Linked DNA regions of Homo sapiens. The protein of the gene in region 2 purifies or fractionates together with the protein of the main gene of each other region. This does not show direct contact. Each region holds a gene or a part of one and is shown on either strand. Other genes may lie near its edges.

Region 1 (3,500 bases), on a different chromosome or scaffold from region 2:
ATTTTAAATTTATCTAGATATATAATGTTACTTTGTTTCTTTAATTAAACATATATTTTATGTTTTTTGGTTATTATTTTGTTTGATTGATAGAGTGTTTCTCAGAGAAAATTAAGTGTAGAAACCAGTTGCTGGTGAAATTTTCTAAATTAATGGTAGAATTAAAATTACTGGGTTTATCTGCATGAACACGTATAGTCAAACACAGATATAATCAAGGTCTCAGATGCATTTTAGAACTGAATGTGGTCTTGCAAATAAATAGAGTTCTAGAAGCTTAAAGTAAAACAAAAATTCTTAGTTCAATCTTTTACAAAGCTTAGCTGTTAACCTACCATCATTAACTCAAAATGAAATGCCTTAAATGAGCAACATTGATATGAATTACTCATTGGGCTAACATTCTTTCCTTCCACTAATTAAGGTTTTCATGAAGTTCGAGGTATTTTTCATGCATACAGAGCAGCTGTATACATGAGAGAGAAAAAATGTGAGAGAGAAAAAATGGATTAAAATAAAATATTTTTAAATACCAGTCATTCACTGAATACATGTTTATTAAGTGCCTATTTTTTAGCAAACACTGTGATTTTCTGGATAAATACCATTAACCTGTCCAGGGAGAGTTCATTTTTAGGACAGACATACAGAGCCTGGTCTGTAGGTGTCCCATGTGTCTATCTATATTTCATTTTAAAGGAGTATTTTGTGTTGTGACCATCAGCATTTTATCAAGTAAAACATGCTTTTGTGAGAGAAGGATTATTTTAGTGTATATGTTATAAGGGTTGCCATTCTTTTGAATTTGAAACTTGCAAAGAAACTCTAGAGAGCAGCCTGGGGGAAAATGTGTGTTTACGAATGACCTCTGTTCTCAACAATTATTCAGCTGGGGCTTACCTTTGTTTATATGATTTTTTTGTGCTTTTTCTTTGGTTGCAAAGATTGTGGATAACTCTTCTCTTCCACTATCAGAAAAGTTTCCCGTTCTGTGGGGAGGGGTGTGCTGCTTTGATAAATTGTTGTTCAAGGGCGTAGTCACTAAAGTGAATGATTGTTCAAGGAAGTGCGCTGCCTGAAAAAAGAATGAGGTCATAGGATAAAGGGGTTGCATTTTCAGCTTTGGTCTCCTCTTTTGTGCTTACAATTAAATGAAGCTATAGAAATTGGAGAGTGCAACTAATTGCTGAGTGAAAATGCCCATGGCAATTGTATCTTGTTTAACGGAGGTCTGATAAATTGCTGGGCCTGTTTTCAGTCAAAGGCACTCATAAGCTGTCACGGTGTGTGTGTGGCAAGATATGAGGGTGGCAAGTGGAAGAGAGGGAAACTGTCCTTTCAAGTTTATTTTCTTGACAATTCATGACAAAACAATTGGGAAATTTGCCATGCTCTTAAGCCCTATTTAAAAGTTAAAACTTTTATTAATAAATATATTTCAGCCAACTTTTTCTTCAGACCAGGGGCTATCCCAGTAGAGGTCATTTTTTGATTTTCAATAAAGTATATATACTCATAATTTTTAAAGACAGAAAGCATGCACTGCAAAAAAGACTGTGTATTTTATTTTCTCTCTGTCTCCTAGTTTTCTTCAGAAAAAGAAGAGAAAGAACCCAATATGGACCTCTTAAATGAGGGATTTGGGTTGGAGAGAAGGAGGAACAGGAAGTAGTTCTATTATACATTCGGTTGCTTTCTTTGTATGACAACAGAAACACAGATTTTATCCTAAATCAAAGAAGTGTTTATTTCATCTAAAGAGAGATTATTATAAATAACATGTTTCTTGCTATATAAGTTGAGTATAACATCTCAACAATAACCTCAGACAGGTGTTTAACTATGTTACATGGCTTTGAAAGATCCTAACAAAAACATCTCCCATACTATTCAGGGAATTTATTCAAATGGAGGTTTGCCTTGGCAAATTCTGTCAGCATAAATGTCAGGTGGTTTTTAAAGATATTGCTTCTTTTGAAACTGTTCAGCCTAGAGTATTTGTAACTCACCATTATTACCTTCAGTGATTCTCATAGTCATTGGGAGTAACAGGAGCATACACAAACCTTCCATGGTTTTCCTTCATGGAATATTATACTGTATATTAGTCTTTATGTAAAGTTTTAAAATTCAAATTAGACAACATAAAGAGTTATACTTTCATGTTAGCAAGTTTCCAAATATTTAGAAACAAAGCCTGCACTACGTATGTAATATTCTCTATGATTTAATTCTCATTACCTTCAGTCTTTCTTGTATGTCTTACACCAGGCTTTTGAGCTCTTTGACCACAGCTATCAACAGGAAAATGAAGCCAACAGGTCTTGACTGAAGAGGTTCAGATTTTGCAGTCTAAAGACCAATTGCAGAGAAAATTGTATGAAGAAAATGCCCAAAAAGGTCTATGTGGAATGTCTCAGGAAGAGCTGTAAATAAATATGCAATCATGAGGTGAACTTTGGCAGAATAGAACTATGAAGCAGTCTAGTTGGAGTCCCTAGGAATATTAATTTTAAAATCTCCACAACTTTAATTACACCTAAGAATATGTTCTCTAGAAAAGTTGCTTAAATTCCCTATACACATCCCATATCACTCCTCTGCTGCAAAAACCTTCAATGACACTAAGTATCTATAAATTGCTTAGTCTGACTTTCAAGGCCCTCCATGTTAGGGCTCCTGTGGAACTTCCTGGAACTCTCCTTCTGGTGTCCTATGTTTTAGCTAAGTGTAAATGATTGTTCTCTAAATAAAGTCCCCAATTTTCCACAGCTATGTCTTTCACTCCATTGCTCTTACATCTGAACTGCTCCTGCTCCTCACCCTCACCAATCTAGACACCCTGAAATTATACAAATTTTTCAAGCCTTTCCTCAAGTGTAACCTTCTGATCCTCTGATTGTCCCAGGTTGAAGTTATCTCTTAGCCCTCAAAACTTACCTAGTGAGCTTCTTATAGGTCTTATGATAGTCTACTTAATTCCTATTTGTACTCATAGTGTTTATGCCCTACATGATTATAACCATGAGAGGGTAGAGATTATATTCTAACATCATTTGTATCTCTTTCAATGCCACTACACAATAAGTAGTAAAGAAACTGCAAGTTAGTAACTTAGTCACATATATAATCAATCCAGTGAAAATAATATTTCATATTAATACATGGGTTTTTTGTTTTTCACAACTCTTCCATGTATATGATTATCTAGTAAACAACTTGATAGAACCTCAACAATTAGATAAAACATGCATTATTATGTTTATTGTACAAATTGTACGATGTACAAATAAAGACAATATTCATTGTGTATTATTTATCTGTTAAACAAATAAGGAAATTGAGACTCGAATAGCTCAAAATAACTTGCCTATTTAGTACAGCTGGTTAGTGAATGCCCTGAGTTTAAAAACCAGCTCCTGATATTTTCATTACATCAGCTATCTCCCTTAATTAACTTTCGATATTCATGATTTCAGTTTAAATTAGTTCACATTTTT
Region 2 (3,500 bases):
AGACAAGGAGAGTGATTCACCTGGGTCTTCATGGAGCTCTGACCCACCCAGGGTTAGGAGGCTCTCTCTGAAATTATTTGCCATCAGCACTGTGTTGAGGGGACCACTTCTCCCTGCCATGCAGAAGTGATGGATGGCCTCAGTCAGTCGGTGGAAGCCAGCTCAGCCCAGGGTCTTGTCTGTACGTGGAGAGCTTTGGCTTGAAGAAGCACTGTGTTAAAGGTGAAATGAAACACACTTTCTTGTGTCACCTGCCAAGAACTGACAGTGACTTCCCAGTTCTTTATGTGCCTCCTGCAGGAGAGTGTGGCTTCTGTGCCAGGCTGAGGACCGACATGCCCCGTGTTGCTCCCTGGCTGTGACAGCATGAAAAACACCCACCTCAGTGTTCTACCCAGGCCGCTGCTGGCAAGTGGGCGGAGGCGAGAAGCGTCAGTGTTCATTCCTTTGCTTTTTTAGAGCTTCTCTAGGTGTGGCTACATCTTGTCAGCCAGTCAGAATTTTAAACACAGCCAGCTCCTAATTGCCCCAGCATGGCTTCTGCCCACTATGAATGACCCTCAGCTAAGGCCTAGTCCTTGGCAGGCCTCTTCCTGCCACCTGCTTCCAGACCATCGTGGGAGCTCACTGGGACCTTAGCCTGGGCCCAACAGGAGTCAGGGATCAAATGTGCAAAGGAGTCTTATTCTGTGTTCTGAGAACACAAGGAAGTGGTCTTCTCTCATTATCATGTCTCTCCATTAGGGTGTTCTAAATTTGATTTTATTATTGAATCAATCATTTATATTATTAATTCAATATGAAATGTTAAATGCCAAGTCAAACTACCTATTGTAGCAGTGGAAAAAAACGGAAATATTTGTGCTGATACTTACTGACTGAAATCACCTGTCGTTTTCATTCCTCTTTGTTGACTTGATGTATTTGTAAGCAGCAGGGGCATCTCGCTTGTGTTTTCCAGGAAGAGTCAGTGAATGGCTGCGGTGTGACAACATGCACCACCAGTGGCTTCTGCTGGCCGCATGCTTTTGGGTGATTTTCATGTTCATGGTGGCTAGCAAGTTCATCACGTTGACCTTTAAAGACCCAGATGGTACGTATGCTTCATGGTGGAACGAATTTTGGCTAATTTAGACCTAGCTGCAACACTGTTCCTAGGTACATGCATAGATGACTTCTGTCACAGAGTCAAAGGACTTTCATGCCAGCAGGGACCTTGGAGGTCATGGCCTCCGTTCCTTCATGTTACAGAGGTGTGAGGGGAGGTAGGGTGGGAGGGGCTGGAGGGTCTTTTCAAGCATCTCCTCTGGAGGAAGGAAGCTGCTCTTTGTGGCTGAGGCCTGGGTGGTGCCTAGGAGCAAGGAGCAGGGTCTCCTCCCAGCAGCACAGTGGCCTTATGCCTTGCAGCAGGGCGCCTCTCAGGCTCGCAGTTGGGAATTCTCTTTGCCTCATGTCATCATGAGAGGTGCAGCCTCAACTGCTTGGCATGCCCGTGTGGTGGCCACATGTTTGAAGGTCACCCTCCATGCAGCGGAGGAGGGTCATTTAAATGTATGTCTTCAGGTTGTCTTGGAGGCTTTCTTAGCTCTCCTTTACTGAACGTAGGCATTCAGATGAGGACGGATAAAGAGCGCCAAATTGGGTCTCAGAATGCTGATTCTACTTCGTGCTCTTGTCATTTGCTTATCTACATCACAATGTTTCTTCCACCAAATGGACACCCTGCCTGCTCCGGCACCGCCCATGATTGCCCTGAGCATGGTGAGGTGCTCTGTGGTCTGTGGAGTGCTGGATATGTCCAAAGAGGTGTGTGATATGCTCTCCAGCCCCGAGGCCACTTCATTGAGTGGCCAAGCAGGCAAGCACGAGGAAGCCAGACACATGGAGTCATTGAAGTCCTCATTTGTGCCGTGGATTGGCCCATTCCTTTAGGCTGATTGGGAGATACTGGGGAACGTGGATGAGCACAGCACTTTGCTGTGCTCTGCACCGTACTTTGTCCTCCTGCCGATGGTGGCCTTGGAAAGGGGCAGTTAGAGATGCCTCTGTGCCAGCAGTTCTTCCTGGAGGCTGCACTGACCTGTGCTGTCTGTGTGGGACAGGCCCCTGCTCCACCTCACAGAGCTCCCAGGCATGTCCCTGGCTGTGTCAAGGACTGCCCGATGTCCTACACCTCCTGCCCCATCCTCTCTCTGCCCCACCTTGTCTGCAGAGGGACAGCAAGGTTAGAAGGGAGGTCTGCAGGGAAAAGAGGGACACCCTGAAATTAGCCCACATGGTGGTTCTCCCCATGACAGTTGTTGGGCCCTGATTGGCTGTCATCACATGTCCTGCCTCATCCTCCAGGAGCCCTGGAGAGAAACCTGTGAGGTCTGCACAGCCTCGGGAGGTGATATTACACCTGCAGGTATCTGGGCAGGTGTCACTGAGCATGACAGCTCACGCCCGGGACTCGGGGTTCCGTCAGCAGAGCAAGGGTCGATTCTTGGAGGGTTGCTGGAATGTGACACGATGATCTCAGTTTGACAGTTTGGACATTTCCATGGCAGCTTCAGCACAGTGCCATGCCACTGAGAGATCCCTCCTGAAGCCCTAGAGCCGGGTTCTCATCCCCGCAGCACTTCAGAATCACCTGTGGGACTTTACAGACCTGCTGCTGCTTGAGACCCAGTGAAGGAGAATCACTAGGGGTGGGGCCCAGTTGAGAAGCACAGTGGTAGATCCTAGCTGGAGAACTGAAGAGAAACAGAGCTGCTGAGAATAAGAAATAGGTGTTACTCAGGATTCTCCTAAATGTCACCTCCTGGTATGGAAGGCACTCAAAAGGCAGGTCATGAGGTTAAATTGTTTATGGTTTATTTTGCTTAAAAAAGTAGGAGTAGATGTAATACATTTTAGTGAGACTTCTATAGGTAATAGTTAAATAAGACTTGTGCCTTTGTGTTTTACTGTTATCTGGCAGAATGGCCTCTAAAGAATGCCTTGTTTCCCAGCGGCATCTGGTAAATGAGGTCTCATTCTCCTTTGATGTATCAAGTTTTGTGCTGAATGTTTTCAGTGTAGACACTGATCCTGGAAGCTAAGCAGGGGTAGGCCCGGTTAGAAAAAAAGCAAGTGTAGGCGCAGAACAGGGTTTTGTGAAGCGGAGAAAAGGAGTGGTAAGGAGTGTTAGGAGATAAAACCTATGAAGAAAGATGAAGGGCTTTCGGATTTTACACCTGGAGAGGAGCACCGCAGCGGTCCTTAATACTGCCTGTGAGATCTTTCCAGCCGGCTGCCTTCAGGCGAGTGAAAGGGGGCACTTTCCCTGCCCTGTGAGATCTGGTGTGGTGTGTGGGTGCTGGGTCACTGAGATGGGAGTGCTGCCCCTGACCCCGAGGCAGGGGCTGCTGGTGGTGAGGATGCTGTTGGCCGCACAGTGTGCAGTGAACTCAGTGAGAATCTTCTGTTGTGGGCCCACTCCCGTTGCGGGGTGACCACCACAGCACTACCCAGCCTGC
Region 3 (3,500 bases), on a different chromosome or scaffold from region 2:
GGCAGCTAGTATTGCTTCCTTGCATGGATACATAGGAGGGATACATTATAGATTAATAAATGATAGTGAGATAAACAAAATGATCTGTTGTGTATCTTTTACTTTACATTTGCTATTTACAGAGGAGTGTTGTATACATAGGTATTATTTTATGTCACACTGCTTCAGTGATAACTATATCCATGTGTTTGTATCCATGTTTTTATCCATTCAACTGTATTAAAAGGTGTTGGGACAGGAAAAAAAGTTGTATTACTAAGTACACACAAAGAGGTTCTTCAGGTAAACTTCAAAGTATTAGATAATACTTTAATAACATGGGCAAAGAGGATGCGGCAGAGTAAGAAGTGATGAAAATTATGCAGCTTCATGTTTAAAGTCTGGGCTATAAGAGTCCTGAGAGAAGGAAAGTATAGAAGAACCTTCTGAGTTGAAGGGCCAGGACTAGAGACATGAGCTCCTCCTTTATGGATATGACAGATTCTAAGCCAAGTAGTGCTTGCTAGCAAGACTGAGATGTAAAAATAAAAAAGTTTCAAAGCAAATATATTTCCCCAGCTCCTCCATACAAGCAGCTGTACTTCACTAAGCTACCAAGTTTAGCTGTAAGAAAGTAAGAAGTTTGCTAATGAAAAACAACTTTGTATTTTAATTTCCTCTTCAGGGACATTAGGGATCCTTTGTCTTTTTTCAGTGCTTTGAAATGTTCATGTAATGTCACAAGTCCTAAGACAATGGCTAGAGAAAATTAATATTTTATAAAATTCTATTAGTTTGAGGTTAAAAAGAAAAATCAACGGCAAATTTACCAACTTTTTCTTAAAAGCACAGTGAATCCAAAACAGATAAAAGACTACAAACCCTATAAAATGAATTTAGATTCATTTTCTACTGCAGAAACATTAAAAGTAATTTGGATGATTTCCTAAATCTTAAATGGTGCAAAAGGCGGTTTGCTTAATTATGATTGCTGGCGATGTGGATGAGTCCTCCTGTCTGCTATGAAAAATGTTCTTGCTCAGGGTCCCTTTTATGAAGATTCCTGGGAAAAATCATTTTCCAGTCCTAGTGTCAAGAACAGTTATACTATTGGTTAAAAATTCATTTACTTTTGGCATTGGCTATTAGAGAATTTCTGGCAGTGAGTTTAAACAGAATACTTGACTGCAAACAAGTTATAACAGTTACCCAACTGTGTCCTTCCTTTGCTGCTAAGTCAGGTTGCCTTTACTTTGAAAAAGGTAAAAAGGACAAAACATATCTACTTAGGCACGTGGAATCTTTTTGTTTAAAGTGTTTTTCTATTCGTTGCTACAGGTACAGAGTAAAAAAATAATAATCACAAAGGTTCTGAGAACTGGAAGGAGCTATGGTTCTCATCTCACTTCTAGAATTAACTATGAATCATGTCTTTTTCATCACCCATTCCTGGGGGCCCTCCATTCAGTGTTGCATGGTGAGAAGAATGCTGAAGAGCCAGGAGAGGAAGGCTCCTGTTTCAGCCCCACTACTAATTGGCATCTGGCTCTGTGACTTTCTTGCTTTGGGTCACAGTACCCTCAGCTTAAAATGAGGATGCTGGTCTGGACAATCTCTAAGGTTCTTCTAGAATGGACCTTGTCTTCATTATAGAATGATAGTTTAGGAACAGTGGGAACACATTTCCACTCCAGCCTCTGATTGAGGCCAGAAGTGAATACTCTACTCCACTATGGTCCCTGTGCCCAAAGCTCCAGCCCTCTAAGGATCTTGTTGCATAGCTATCAGCATTCTCCATGAACTCCTTTGTGACCAGCTCCTGAGCACAAGATTCTTTAACATTTCCTGTCCATAAGTGACCATCACACCCTGCAGGCAGCCAGGCTTTAGGCAGTGGAGAGACGCGGGGTTCCAGGAACCCTGCTTAAGCACGGCATGCTCAGGAGAGACTTTCTTACCAAACAGCTCAATGTAGACCTCTTGAAGCGTGTGCACACTGCAGAACTGGTTCAGTTCGTGGTGGATCTTGTTGAAGATGAGGGCCTTGTCATAGTCAGCAGTATAGTTCTTCACTATATCATACACTGAGAGGGAAGGAGAGGGCTTGGCATAAGAAAAGGCAAGACTCAAAATGCCCTCAGACACGGCAGCTCTCCTTTTCCAAGGTGCTACAACAGACACGGGAGTGGCATGCTGGGGAAAGTGAGCTGGTGGTGGGAATAAACTGTTAAGACGTACCTGCGTTCGGGACCAGGAAGTTCACCACTTCAATTCTGTCAAAGTAGATCATCACACCACCACTATTGGAGGGAGAATGGACAAGAAGTCACTGGGAAGCCTTAGAATATGGTGCAGTCCCCCAGGGTGATGGCGTAAGATGTGGGGCTTGGCAGAAAAGGAGTAGAAGAGTTCACGGGAAGTTGGAAGGCAGCTTGGATCTCCAAGTGGGAGGTTCTGCAGGGCTCATGGCAACAACATACTCTCCTGAGAAATCACACTGCCTAGGAACATCTCTACAAAGACATGAATGAGACTTTTGGGGACCAGTACGAAAGAGTAACTCATATCTTTGGAATCAGCAATGCCTTTTGATTAATCAGTTGCACGGAAAAGACTAAGGAGGGTCAAGGTGAAGTTTTCAGAACTTAGAAGGTTACTGTGGAATGTTATGATCAATGTTTCTTAAACTGTCTTCACTATTACTTTGGTGTCACACTCCCTTTGCCCTCAAATATTTATTATAAAAAGATTTCAAACATAGAGAAGCCGAAAGAGTAGTATAACTAACATCCATATCCAGATACCTGAATTCAACACTGATAACATTTTACCTTATTTATTGACCTTTTTTTTTTCTGAACATTTCAAAGTAAGCTGCAGTTAGGATACTTTACTCCTTTACTTTGGTGAGCACTGTCTTAAGAATAATCATTCTCCTACACACTCATGGTATCATTCCCAAGCCTAAGAAAATTAGCAATAATTCTGTAATATCACCTAATACCCAGTCCTTATTCAGATTTCCCCAACAGTTTGTGTTATGGACTGACCTGTGTATGCCTCGCCCCCAGATTCATATGTTGAAGCCCTAACCCCCAATGTGACTGTATTTGGAGATTAGACCTTTAAGAAGGTAATTAAGGTTAAACAGGTCATAAGGGTGGGCTGTAATCCAAAAGGTCTGGTATCCACCAAAGACCTTTTTCTCTCTTCTTGCACATACAGAGGAAAGGCCTTGTGAGGATGTGACAAAAAGGTGGTCACCTGCAAGCCAGAAAGAGAGGTCTCACCAAAACTACCCCTGCTGTTACCCGGATCTTGGACTTTGGGCCTTCAGAATGGTGAGAAAATATCTATTATTTTAGTCCCTTGGTGTGTAGTCCTCTGTCATGGCAGCCTGAGTGGACTCATATAGTTTCTGTCGTATCTGTTATAGCTGTTAATTTTGAACCAGGTTCTAATCAATGCTCACCCTTGCTTCTGTTTATGTTTCTTGTAAGTCTCTGTCCAATCCAGCATCC
Region 4 (3,500 bases), on a different chromosome or scaffold from region 2:
TGACACCACAGTTGACAACATCATTCTACTCACAACTCACAGCTCTCTTTTACAGCCCGTGTTTGTCCTTGCAGTTTCCTTTGCTCCTCACCCTTTCATACAGACTGCCACTCACCCTTGAAGACTTGGCTCAAATGCTATCTCCTCTATGAAGTCCTCCCTGACCACCGCCCTCCAGTAAGACTCCATCTACTGCGCCCTCACAGTCTTGATGAATCTCCCTCAAAGAGCCAGGCACTTCACTCTATTCCTATGATTTGTTCCCCAGTCTAATTCTCACCATGATATAAGTTTATTATAGAGCCCAGAAGAGGACTTGGCCATGAGGTAAGAGCTCAGACAGCAGAAATAAGAGGGAAGACAAGAGAAGGAAAAAGCTGCGAGGGCTAGGCACCCACTTTACCTGCGTGACAGTAATGTTTTCCATCTGGAGAAAGTGTCCACCTGCAATCCCTTCTCCAAGTGCTTCAGCTTGCCCTCATCAGGAAGGATGAAGATGGCTGTGATATTTTTCTGGTAGGGTATTTCCAGGATGGTGCAAGAGAGCTTATCGTCATAGCCAACTTGGTATATGCCACTACGGAACATCATGGGCACCTTGACTGAACTGTTTTTCTCCAGAAAGAAATCTTCCTCTTTAGTTACATTTGGATCAAACTCATGTTTCCACCTGGCTTAGATTGAAGAAAGACAAACAGACATGTTATCCCAAGGGAAAAAAGGTGACTAAATCCAACTAACCAGTAGTCTCTCTCCACACAGATTCAGGGTGAAAGGGGATATTCCGGGATATCAGGGAAGTCCTTGCCCTCATGCCATGTCCTGGAGATTTCTGATGATATGGGCTCAGGTGCAATTATTAGTTCCCAAAGAAGCCAGGACTAGACTGCCAAATTAAGAGGGGAAAAGAAGACTACCATAAGCTCAGGTTCCCCTAAGCCTGAGAAAGCCCACTGATTATGTCCTAACAGAGGGGACTGCATTACAATTAATGAGGGCTAATTGAGTCTGATGTGAGTAGACTCTTCTTTAGCCATCAATCTGCCTGTGGATTTTGAGAACCCTCAATTTTTTATATTTAGTACCATGTTCCTGACACTCCAGCAGTGATTTTGTCTGGACTGATGGGTGTTGGCCTCTGATTCTCACCTATTTTGGCCAACCTGTTTGTGTACATGTGTTCTGTGTGGTGTTGGGGGATAAAGTTGAAATTGGAAACATTCTTCCATCTTTTTTTTCTGTCTCTCTCCATCAGATCTGGGAAATATATAAAGTCTGATAAGGAGAATTTATATAATACATACATAAGGAGACCCACCAAGTGATCACCATCACCATAATCAACACAATCACCATCTCAGGTGTCTGCTTAAAGTGCTGGAAAGCACACAGTGCTAGGGCCAGGAGAAATGTGTTCCAGTCCTGACTGTCAATGATGGGCTTTGTAACTTGGAGTAAGTCAGTTAATCTCACTCTGATTTTTTTTTCTCATCTAAGTGATGGGAACAAAATGTCATTCCAACCTCTATAACCAATGTTGTGTTAGGATAATCACCAATAATGAAAATGATAGACTTCATAAAGCTCATTTCACATACATTTTCACTTTAAATCTCAATAACTGTATGAGTTATGTATCATGGTAACCATTTTACAGATAGGAAAAGTGAGGTTTTGAGAGATAAATCACATATGAATTCAAGGTCACAGAGTAAACAAGTGGCCAACCCAGGTTTTTAACCCAAGTCTAGTGGTCATCCTATTCTTTCCACACCAACATGCCAAAAGCCTTACCTCGAAAGAAAATATAATTTGCAAGAAGCATCACAGTGCCGGGGTCTATATTCTCGATCAGGTTGTTAATTTTCCCATGGGTTTTTTGACTGATAAAGTCATTGATCTGCTTCTGAGCCATTTCCAAATTCTGAAAGTTGGTAAGGATGGTTTCGGCACTGTAAAAGTTCTTGGCATCTTCCAAAAACTTACGCTGTGGCTGCAGCCTCTGGTCAATGAACAGCGTGTTCCCAATGCTCAGTTTGAGGTCCTGGGTCTTCTGGGTCAGCTCGTGGATGATGTAATGGAAGCCCTCATGAAGATCTTTTTCTGGCATCTTTCTGAAGTTGAACCCCTGCTTGATCTCGTCCAGGGTGCTGTCCTGGGCACCCAGGCACAGCATGGAGAAAGCTGTAGAGATGCTCAAGGGGGATAGGAAGATGTTCCTGCCAGGGTTGTAAAAGGCCAGCTTCTTGAGCAGCTTAAAGCCTAAGTCCATGTTCTGCCTTGCAAGCTCCTTGGCTGCCATCCTTTGCTTCCATCCTTGGACCTCGCTCAAAGCTTTATAATTCCTTGGTGAGAAGCTCGGCTTTAGAAGACCTTTCACCGTGAGGAGAACAGCCAGAAAAATGGCCAGGCCTAGTGTGGGGTTCATTTTCCTTGAAGAATATCCTGTTGAGTAGTAGACCTGAGGTCAGCAGAAAAAAAGAACATGATAACCCCATTGCCTACATGTTACCCAGAGGAAGACCAGATGAAAGAAGAAATACAGTGACTATTATGTGTTGTACATAGCAGTTTATGAGTGCTTTGACCCCTTTATAGCATTTAAACTTTATAATCACCCTGGGGACTAGAAATGACTTCTACACTTTGTAAATAGGAGGACTGAATGTAGAAGACAACTCTTGTTTTTGTACCCTCTTTATGGAAACAGTGTCTCAATTCCTTTGAGGAACAGCTCTCCTTCCCTCCATTGGACCACAGTGAGGATACCCCGTAGTGTAGGCATATGGCCCAGACCTACCATCATAATACTTCATTCCTTTGCCACACTGGCTGGTTAAAGATGAGAGTGTGGACCAAAATCAGACCTCTCAGTGTCTTTCTAAGGGAATGCAAAACCCCCTAAGCTTTGGGGCAGCTAGCTTTGTGAAGTAGCCCTGGAGCTGAATGTGGCCATGGTTTCCACATGTAGAAGGAGAGGAGAGTGATAGAGGGAGGTGGAAAGACAGAAATGGACTGACACATCTGATGACATCTTTGGAGACCCTGGACTAACCTTTAACTCAGTTTGCTACCCACTTCCATGTTTCCAAGTTATGAAAGCCAATAAATTTCCCTTTTAGAGTTGGCTGGTTTGAGGTAAATTTTTCCCCTTCAGCCAAAAGAATTATGACTAATTTACAGAGATCAAGCTCTTTGTTTAAGCTCATATGTTCTCTAGGTGGTGGATACTCATTCCAGGAGGACTTAGATCTCCAGGAAACCTTCTTCCCTACACCCTTCCCAGGGAGGGAAGAGGATGGCACCATGGGAGAGGAACAGCCAGGTCTGCCTGGCTCTGGACTGCTGCTCCTTTCATCCACCTCTCAGCTTTGACATCTTCCAACGGCCACTGTGAGCTTCTGGGAGACAAGACTTTTAGCTACGTTTTCCCTTAATCTCCAGCCCTAATTCTGCAGAGAGATGCTAAAAGCATGTTGGCCTAAAAAGCTTATTGATTT

What was found. The genes of interacting proteins can lie anywhere in the genome.
Region 1: the proteins of CHST10 (region 2) and POF1B purify together in Homo sapiens (affinity purification with mass spectrometry; one large-scale study listed by BioGRID and IntAct). This does not show direct contact.
Region 3: the proteins of CHST10 (region 2) and ERLIN2 purify together in Homo sapiens (affinity purification with mass spectrometry; one large-scale study listed by BioGRID and IntAct). This does not show direct contact.
Region 4: the proteins of CHST10 (region 2) and SERPINA12 purify together in Homo sapiens (affinity purification with mass spectrometry; one large-scale study listed by BioGRID and IntAct). This does not show direct contact.

The regions. Positions count from the first base shown.
Region 1 is NC_000023.11:85,373,166-85,376,665, reverse strand, and holds part of POF1B (protein POF1B), read left to right. Parts: intron 1-3,500. UniProt on the Homo sapiens protein: Plays a key role in the organization of epithelial monolayers by regulating the actin cytoskeleton. May be involved in ovary development.
Region 2 is NC_000002.12:100,404,169-100,407,668, reverse strand, and holds part of CHST10 (carbohydrate sulfotransferase 10), read left to right. Parts: exon of another isoform or gene 1-222; intron 223-961; 5' UTR 962-993; coding exon 994-1,093; intron 1,094-3,500. UniProt on the Homo sapiens protein: Catalyzes the transfer of sulfate from 3'-phosphoadenylyl sulfate (PAPS) to position 3 of terminal glucuronic acid of both protein- and lipid-linked oligosaccharides.
Region 3 is NC_000008.11:37,743,134-37,746,633, reverse strand, and holds part of ERLIN2 (erlin-2), read right to left. Parts: intron 2,280-3,500; coding exon 2,218-2,279; intron 2,064-2,217; coding exon 1,938-2,063; intron 1,066-1,937; coding exon of another isoform or gene 1,031-1,065; exon of another isoform or gene 84-1,030; intron 81-83; exon of another isoform or gene 1-80. UniProt on the Homo sapiens protein: Component of the ERLIN1/ERLIN2 complex which mediates the endoplasmic reticulum-associated degradation (ERAD) of inositol 1,4,5-trisphosphate receptors (IP3Rs) such as ITPR1.
Region 4 is NC_000014.9:94,495,970-94,499,469, forward strand, and holds part of SERPINA12 (serpin A12 precursor), read right to left. Parts: intron 2,462-3,500; 5' UTR 2,429-2,461; coding exon 1,795-2,428; intron 675-1,794; coding exon 404-674; intron 1-403. UniProt on the Homo sapiens protein: Adipokine that modulates insulin action by specifically inhibiting its target protease KLK7 in white adipose tissues.